Linked DNA regions of Homo sapiens. The protein of the gene in region 1 interacts with the protein of each later gene in a biochemical or structural test. Each region holds a gene or a part of one and is shown on either strand. Other genes may lie near its edges.

Region 1 (3,652 bases):
TCGCTCTGTCGCCCAGGCTGGAGTGCAGTGGCGCGATCTAGGCTCACTGCAAGCTCCGCCTACCGGGTTCACGCCATTCTCCTGCCTCAGCCTCCCGAGTAGCTGGGACTACAGGCACCCGCCACCAAGCCCGGCTACTTTTTTGTATTTTTTTTAGTAGAGACGGGGTTTCAACATGTTAGCCAGGATGGTCTCTATCTCCTGACCTCGTGATCTGCCCGCCTCGGCCTCCCAAAGTGCTGGAATTACAGGTGTGAGCCACCACGCCTGGCCCCAGCCCTACATGATTTCTAAACTGTGTTTATGAATATATACACACATACGTATGGTATATGATCAGTATAACTGTGATTATTAAAAATATGAAATAGGAGCTAGGCTTGCCTAATATCTGAGGAAAACTAGACGAAAAAGACCCTGAAACAAAAGCAAAACAAAAAAATTCCTTTATACATTGTGTTTTGAATGATTGGAGTAGCTCAGAACTGCCTGTGAACAAGGGCAAAAGTGGAAGTTAGCCTTGGATTTAGAGAAAGTTGCTGTGATCTCTCTGCCCATCCCCCCAACCACAACCACTCTCCAATCCAAAGCAGAGTGCATCTTCATTTCACTTTGGGTAGTCAATGAAAATGACAGCTGAAAAAAATGTGTAAGTAGTAGGCTGGCCTGCTCTGATGCTATCCCTGGAAGTATTTTGGCCAAGTGACTAAGAGAGGTTAAGAATTTGTCAGTGACTATTGTCTTTAAGGATAAGCAATCTGCCAAGAGTTCTCTGAATTTCTTGTAGAGTTTTGTTTAAAGTTGGAATTAGGTAAATGTCATACACTTTGTTACACAGCCTCAAAAGGCAGTGTATTTCAGTGGATTAAGTAGAAGCTTGAAAAATGATGGTGACTCACTTGGAGTTACTTTTCATTATGTCTGTTTATTACTTTACTTGCCATCTATGAAATAGGGCTGAGGCTAGCAGATACATTTTTTTTTTTAATTTTTTTATTTTTGGCTGGGGTAGAGATGGGGTTTCACTATGTTGCCTAGGCTAGTCTCAAACTCCTGTACTCAAGTGATTCTCCTGCCTTGGCCTCCCAAAGTGCTTGGATTACAGGCATGAGCTACCATGCCCAGCCAGAAGAAGAATCTTTTTCTTGACTCTGTTGGGAGTTGAGAGCTTTATAAGTTGGAAATCAAAGGATTTTAGAATGACAAGGGTCAATTTTGTTTAGTTTAGTTTTTGACTAGAAAATTGAGGCCACGGAAGGGTGATGATAGGAATTTGGGAAAGTCATGTGGTTATTTAATGGTGGACCCTGGACTGGACCTCTAATCTGTTGCTGTCTACTTAGGCAACAGTTTTCCTTTTTCCCCACCGACACCTTTCCCCCATGTCACTTCCTTAGCTAAACAATGAACTTAATGGGAAACAGAGCCTGGACATCTAAGAAGCTTTAAAAAAGCCTTTTGTCATTTTCTCAGGTAAGATTATTCCTAGGTATATGATGTAATCACTTTCTGCAACCTCCTGAAGGCACCTTTCCTGAGCATTCACAGCTTTCCTGTGGTGTTCAGGTGTCCTGTGGTATTCAGATATTCCTTTAGAGTAACAATGACTAGGGCATGGTGGTGCCCACCTGCAGCCACTACCACCCCCACCCCATCTCTAAATAAAAAGTTTTTAAAAATTAGAGTAACAGTGAAGCAGATTGAATGTTAAAACACCTAGCCTCTGAAAACCACTGTGTTCATTCATTATTCCTGCTGTCCTCTCAATCTCATGAATCAGGCTGGGGTGTTGGGCAACCTGGCACACTGACTGAATACTGATCACATTAAATTTTTAAAAGGTCTCTGATTATAAATAGAATACATGCTTTCTATACATAAACCAGAAAATGGGGAATTATAAAGAAGAAAGTTATCTAGCTTCAGTAGAATTTCCCATCTTTACTCTTTCGCAAACATTCTTGTAAAAATCTTTCATTTGAGTAACGTGATTTTATAAGAAAAAAGATTTTATCCTCCTCTTAAATACAATTCAGACTATAACATTTGGCTGCCACGTCTCATTTTTAGTGACAATTTTAGTGTTTTGCCTTTTCTCAAATGTGTGACAGAAAATTATTTTTGTCCAAGTGATCCATGCACTTGGTAACAAATCCAATATACAGGAGGACATTTGTTGAAAAACAATGGTTTCCTTCACCTCCTCAAGGCTCACAGAGGGCAACTTTTAATTTTTTTCAACTGTACCCATATTTAATTCTTAGATTGTTACCTTCTTAAGCTTAAGTAATGTGCTTTTACCACCATGTTTTGATTTATCAACTTTTAGCACCTGATATGAAAGTGAGAATGTAGCTCTTTAAGCTAGTTTTCTTTTTTCTCTCCCAGGTTTGATGTTTATAATATTTTAAATTTGTCTGTTAGGTCACCTTTTTTAAATAATCATCTTTTTTTTTTTTTTTTTTTTTTTTTTTTTTTTTTTTTTTTTTTTTTTGAGATGGGGTCTGTCTCTGTCACCCAGGCTAGAGTGCAGTGGGAATCATAGCTCACTGAAGCCTCAAATTCCTGGGCTCAAGTGATCCTCCCACCTCAGCTTCCTGAGTAACTACGACTATAGGTTTGCACCACCATATTTGGCTAATTTATTTAACTTTTTTGTAGAGACAGGGTTTCCTATGCTGCCCAGGCTGGTCTCAAACTCCTGGCCTCAAGCAATCCTCCCACCGGCTTCCTAAAGCACTAGGATTACAGGTGTGAGCCACCACACCTGGCTTTTTCAACTTTGGATAGTATTTCTTGATTCCTTATGCTGTATGTCAGTAATGTTTGGATTGCTACCAGTTCTACTGTTCACTTTTTGACAATGTTGCTTTCCACATTGCCAAAGCCCTGAACCCATAACCTGTATTTGTGCTTTGCCCCAAAGTTGACCATCTTATTCGTATATGATTCTTAAAGTTGAAAATCCATAAGGCCGGGCGCAGTGGCTCATGCCTGTAATCCCAGCACTTTGGGAGGCCGAGGCGGGCGGATCACGAGGTCAGGAGATGGAGATCATCCTGGCTAACACCGTGAAACCCCGTCTCTACTAAAAAATACAAAAAAAAAAAAAAAAAAAAAAATTAGCCGGGCGTGGCAGCGGGCGCCTGTAGTCCTACTCAGGAGGCTGAGGCAGGAGAATGGTGTGAACCCCGGAGGCGGAGCTTGCAGTGAGCCGAGATCGCGCCACTGCACTCCAGCCTGGGCAACAGAGCCAGACTCCATCTCAAAAAAAAAAAAAAAAAAGAAAATCCATAGGCAACATTTACATGACTACAATTCTGTGAAATGATTCATTGCCTTGTGTGTCAGGATTGGATTTTAGACTTGCACTGTGGGTCTGGTTTTAGGATTCCTGGGCCAATCAAAGGATGAGATATCTAGCCCCAAAGTCAAATGGGATTTTTTGTTTTCTCACTCTTCATCAGTTGTTTAAATTTGTGTTACCTTTTAGTTTTTTCATATTTGGACCATGACTTTCTTAAATTTTTTCCCTAGTATTTCTGATTGCCTTTTAATGTGTTCATGCATTATTTGCCATTATTATGATCTCAAAAGTTTTCTAGGCTCTCAATCTTGTCTAACCTATCGAGTCTTCTTTGTCTAAGCTGTA
Region 2 (3,652 bases), about 35 Mb from region 1:
AGGAGTCAGGTGGGAGTGAATTCCTGCCACCTCCACCTGCTGCTCAGGGCCTCTGTCTATTCCAGTCCTCGTCCTTCAGCAGCATCACGGACTCCACCATGTCACTCAACATCATCACGGTCACTCTCAACATGGGTGAGTCTGAGGAAACAGCACTCTCAAGCACCTGCTATATGCCAGACACTGGGCAGACTTGAGTTCAGAGAGCGTAGAATATGTTCCCTGCCCTCAAGGAGCTCTCTTTCGTAAACATCAGCTGATACATAAACTGATCATTTTAGTATCTCACCATCAGGGCTATGACAGAGATAAGCACAGAGAGCTGTGGAAGCAGAAAATGGTATCAGGGAAGGCTTCCTGGAGGAAGTGATTTCTGAGTGCCCACTCCTTCACATCTCTCAGCCATTGCATCCTTGCTCTCCGATTTCTGCCCTAGGTACTCTCTTTATGAGACAGCTGGATATAGTAAAAGGAGCCCAACTATGGGATTTAAATCTGAGTTTGATTCCTGGCTCTGCCACTTACTGGCTTAGAAAAGTCATCTTCTAAGTTCACTGAACCTCAGTTGCCTGCTCTGTAAAATGGGACTGAGTCCCTACCTTATAGCCAGCAAGGGTTCCATGGAAGCATGTTTGAGCATGCTGAGTGCAGTGCCTGATTCAGGATCAGCAAATGTCAGTTCAGTTCCTGTCCCTTTCCATTTTCTAATGGGCTGGGAATGCGGGTAGGAACCTTGCTCCCCCTTAAGGTCTTAAATTACTCTCTATAGAAAAATATAACTTCTTGGGCATCTCCATTGTGGGCCAAAGCAACGAGCGTGGTGACGGCGGCATCTACATTGGCTCTATCATGAAGGGTGGGGCCGTGGCTGCTGATGGACGCATCGAGCCAGGAGATATGTTGTTACAGGTATCAGTGCCCATCCTAGGCGGTGGTGTGGATAGAGGGCAGGGAGGTGTCCTACCATCTGTACCCTGCTCCTTCAGAGGCCCCTTCTTGGTTGGGGGAAGACTCCCTGACCTACCAAGTTGAGTTCCCTTTTCATCCTCCCCAGCACAGCTGTTTATCCCACTCCTGGTCCTTTCCCAGGTAAACGAGATCAACTTTGAGAACATGAGTAATGACGATGCAGTCCGGGTACTGCGGGAGATTGTGCACAAACCGGGGTATGGATGGAATGGGGCACTGGGCAAGGGGCTTGGTCTGGCCTATACGCATCCTGCCTTCACTAGGACACCCTTGTTTTCAGGCCCATCACCCTGACTGTAGCCAAGTGCTGGGACCCAAGTCCACGTGGTTGCTTCACATTGCCCAGGAGTAAGTGGATGGGAGACTCAGTCCTAAAGCTGGTGCTTACATACATGAGCACTGTCTCTCCTTTCTTCTCTCACCCAGAACCCCCATATCTATCCTGTTGGGCCCAGCAGTGGGTGGGGTGGGTAGCCCATGACTCCTCATCCTCCCTGCAGGCGAGCCCATCCGGCCCATTGACCCTGCGGCCTGGGTCTCCCACACTGCAGCCATGACCGGCACCTTCCCTGCATACGGCATGAGCCCCTCCCTGAGCACCATCACCTCCACCAGCTCCTCCATCACCAGTTCCATCCCTGACACAGAGCGTGAGTGTCCCACCCTGTCTCCTGGGCCCAGCAGACAGGGCCAGGTGGGGGGACTGATGAGGGTCCATGTGGAGACTCTTGCTTGAGCATCAGAGAGGGCTGGAGATGGGGCTCGGCTCATTCCAGCAACCCCACACTGCAACTCCCCCACAGCGGGCACTCCAACCCTCACTAAACAGTGTTTGCTTCTGAACTTGTATGAGCACCCAGGGCGCCTCAGTTTCCTCTTACAAAATGGGACTCACGATATAAACTTTACCAGGTTCCTGTGGGTTTAATGAGAGGATATAAGTGAAGCACCATTGCGATGTGTGGTGTAAAGTAAGCATTCAGTAAACGGCAGCCATTTCGATTATCATCACATGCACATCGTACACTGGCCAAGCACCTGCATTTACATTATTTAATCCTTTATTCAAATAGCCTTGTAAAGTAGATATTAAAATCCCCATTTTTTACAGAAGGGGAAACTGAGTGTCCAAGAAATCAGTAATTTTCCCAGCATTGATCCCATAATTACTAGATGGTAGAGCTAGAATGCAAACTCTTGTTTACCTAACTCCAAAGCCCCTTTCTGCCTCACCATTCTGCCTCCCACCCCCAGGCCTAGACGACTTCCACTTGTCCATCCACAGTGACATGGCTGCCATCGTAAAAGCCATGGCCTCCCCTGAATCAGGGTTGGAGGTCCGTGACCGCATGTGGCTCAAGATTACCATCCCTAATGCTTTCATCGGTGAGAGAGCCCCATGGTGGGATGCAGGGTGGGTGGGGAGTGATGGGGCAGGGCAGGCCGGAGGGCCCAGGACTTGCCTTGGACCCTTCCTTTGATCTGGAGCCAGCCCCAGCCTCATAGCTTCTGTGAGGCCAGATGAGTCCAAGTCAGATGGGCCTCCCCATCAACTGGCAGCCTTGTCCCCAGGCTCAGATGTGGTGGACTGGCTGTACCACAATGTGGAAGGCTTCACGGACCGGAGGGAGGCCCGCAAGTATGCCAGCAACCTGCTGAAAGCTGGCTTCATCCGCCATACCGTCAACAAGATCACCTTCTCCGAGCAGTGCTACTACATCTTCGGTGACCTCTGCGGCAGTATGTGCCTCCCTCATCTTCTTGCCCTGTCTCCTGGCTGGGAGTGGGGAGGTAGCCAGGGAAGTGGCAGCAGACTCTGGGGAACCCAAACTGGGGGACAGCAGAGCCAGGGGCCCAATTCAAGGCCTGAGAGTTCTATGGTGGAAGAAGAGTCCAGTTTAGCCTCTTCACCTGGCCCACATCTCCCTCTTGGGCCTGGCATTTTCTAAGTGCCTGCTCTGCCTGGTACCATGTTGGTTGTTCCTAAAGCATCATCTTACTCAATATTCACAACCTCCCAGAGGCCCAGCTCAGGAGGATACTGCCAGAATAGGCCTTTTCCTTCTCACTCGTCAAGGTCTCAGCTAGGGTGTTGTAGGCTTAAAGGGAAGAACTGGAGGCCTAGGTAGCCCCGAGGAGCACACAGTCATTCCCTCAAAACAAACAGCCTGGAGGCTCACGTCATCACCAGCTCTGGGCAACAGCTGACAGACCACTGCTTTCCTCCACCACCACTCCCCATGCTGGCTGCTGGCCTCTTGACAGGTTGATGGCTTGGCTGCAGGCTCCACAGGCAGCCTCAGAGCCCTGTCTCCTGACTTCTCTCTTGGAAGGCTGGGGCTGGCTCTTCTTAGGGCTGGGAGGAATGTCTCATCTTAATAGGGCCGGTGGCCTCAAGGGCAGTTGTAGCTCTCTTGGAGCTCTGGGACCTGGTACCGATAGTGTGTGAGCAGAGGGTGTCCCAGGCAGGTATTCAGTCCTGGTGGCCCCTTATATTCTCTTCAATGTAGTTCCAACATTGGTGGGAGTAGCCTTGCCATTAAGGAATGTATAATTTCCCCGGGGGCGCCAGGATCGTGAGATGAGTAATGTTGGTGGAGTGAGACAGTGCTATGAAGAGCTAGGCCTGGCTGGGAACGGGGTGGAGAGCAGTGGGGGAGGCACCTAAGTTGTTCTTTCCTTC

The links.
Region 2: the proteins of WWTR1 (region 1) and DVL3 interact in a test that uses a peptide from one of them, tested with the Homo sapiens proteins (one large-scale study listed by IntAct).

What each region holds. Positions count from the first base shown.
Region 1 is NC_000003.12:149,651,463-149,655,114, reverse strand, and holds part of WWTR1 (WW domain-containing transcription regulator protein 1), read left to right. Parts: intron 1-3,141; exon of another isoform or gene 3,142-3,652. UniProt on the Homo sapiens protein: Transcriptional coactivator which acts as a downstream regulatory target in the Hippo signaling pathway that plays a pivotal role in organ size control and tumor suppression by restricting proliferation and promoting apoptosis.
Region 2 is NC_000003.12:184,165,357-184,169,008, forward strand, and holds part of DVL3 (segment polarity protein dishevelled homolog DVL-3), read left to right. Parts: intron 1-65; coding exon 66-135; intron 136-769; coding exon 770-909; intron 910-1,089; coding exon 1,090-1,166; intron 1,167-1,249; coding exon 1,250-1,317; intron 1,318-1,469; coding exon 1,470-1,619; intron 1,620-2,223; coding exon 2,224-2,355; intron 2,356-2,541; coding exon 2,542-2,709; intron 2,710-3,652. UniProt on the Homo sapiens protein: Involved in the signal transduction pathway mediated by multiple Wnt genes.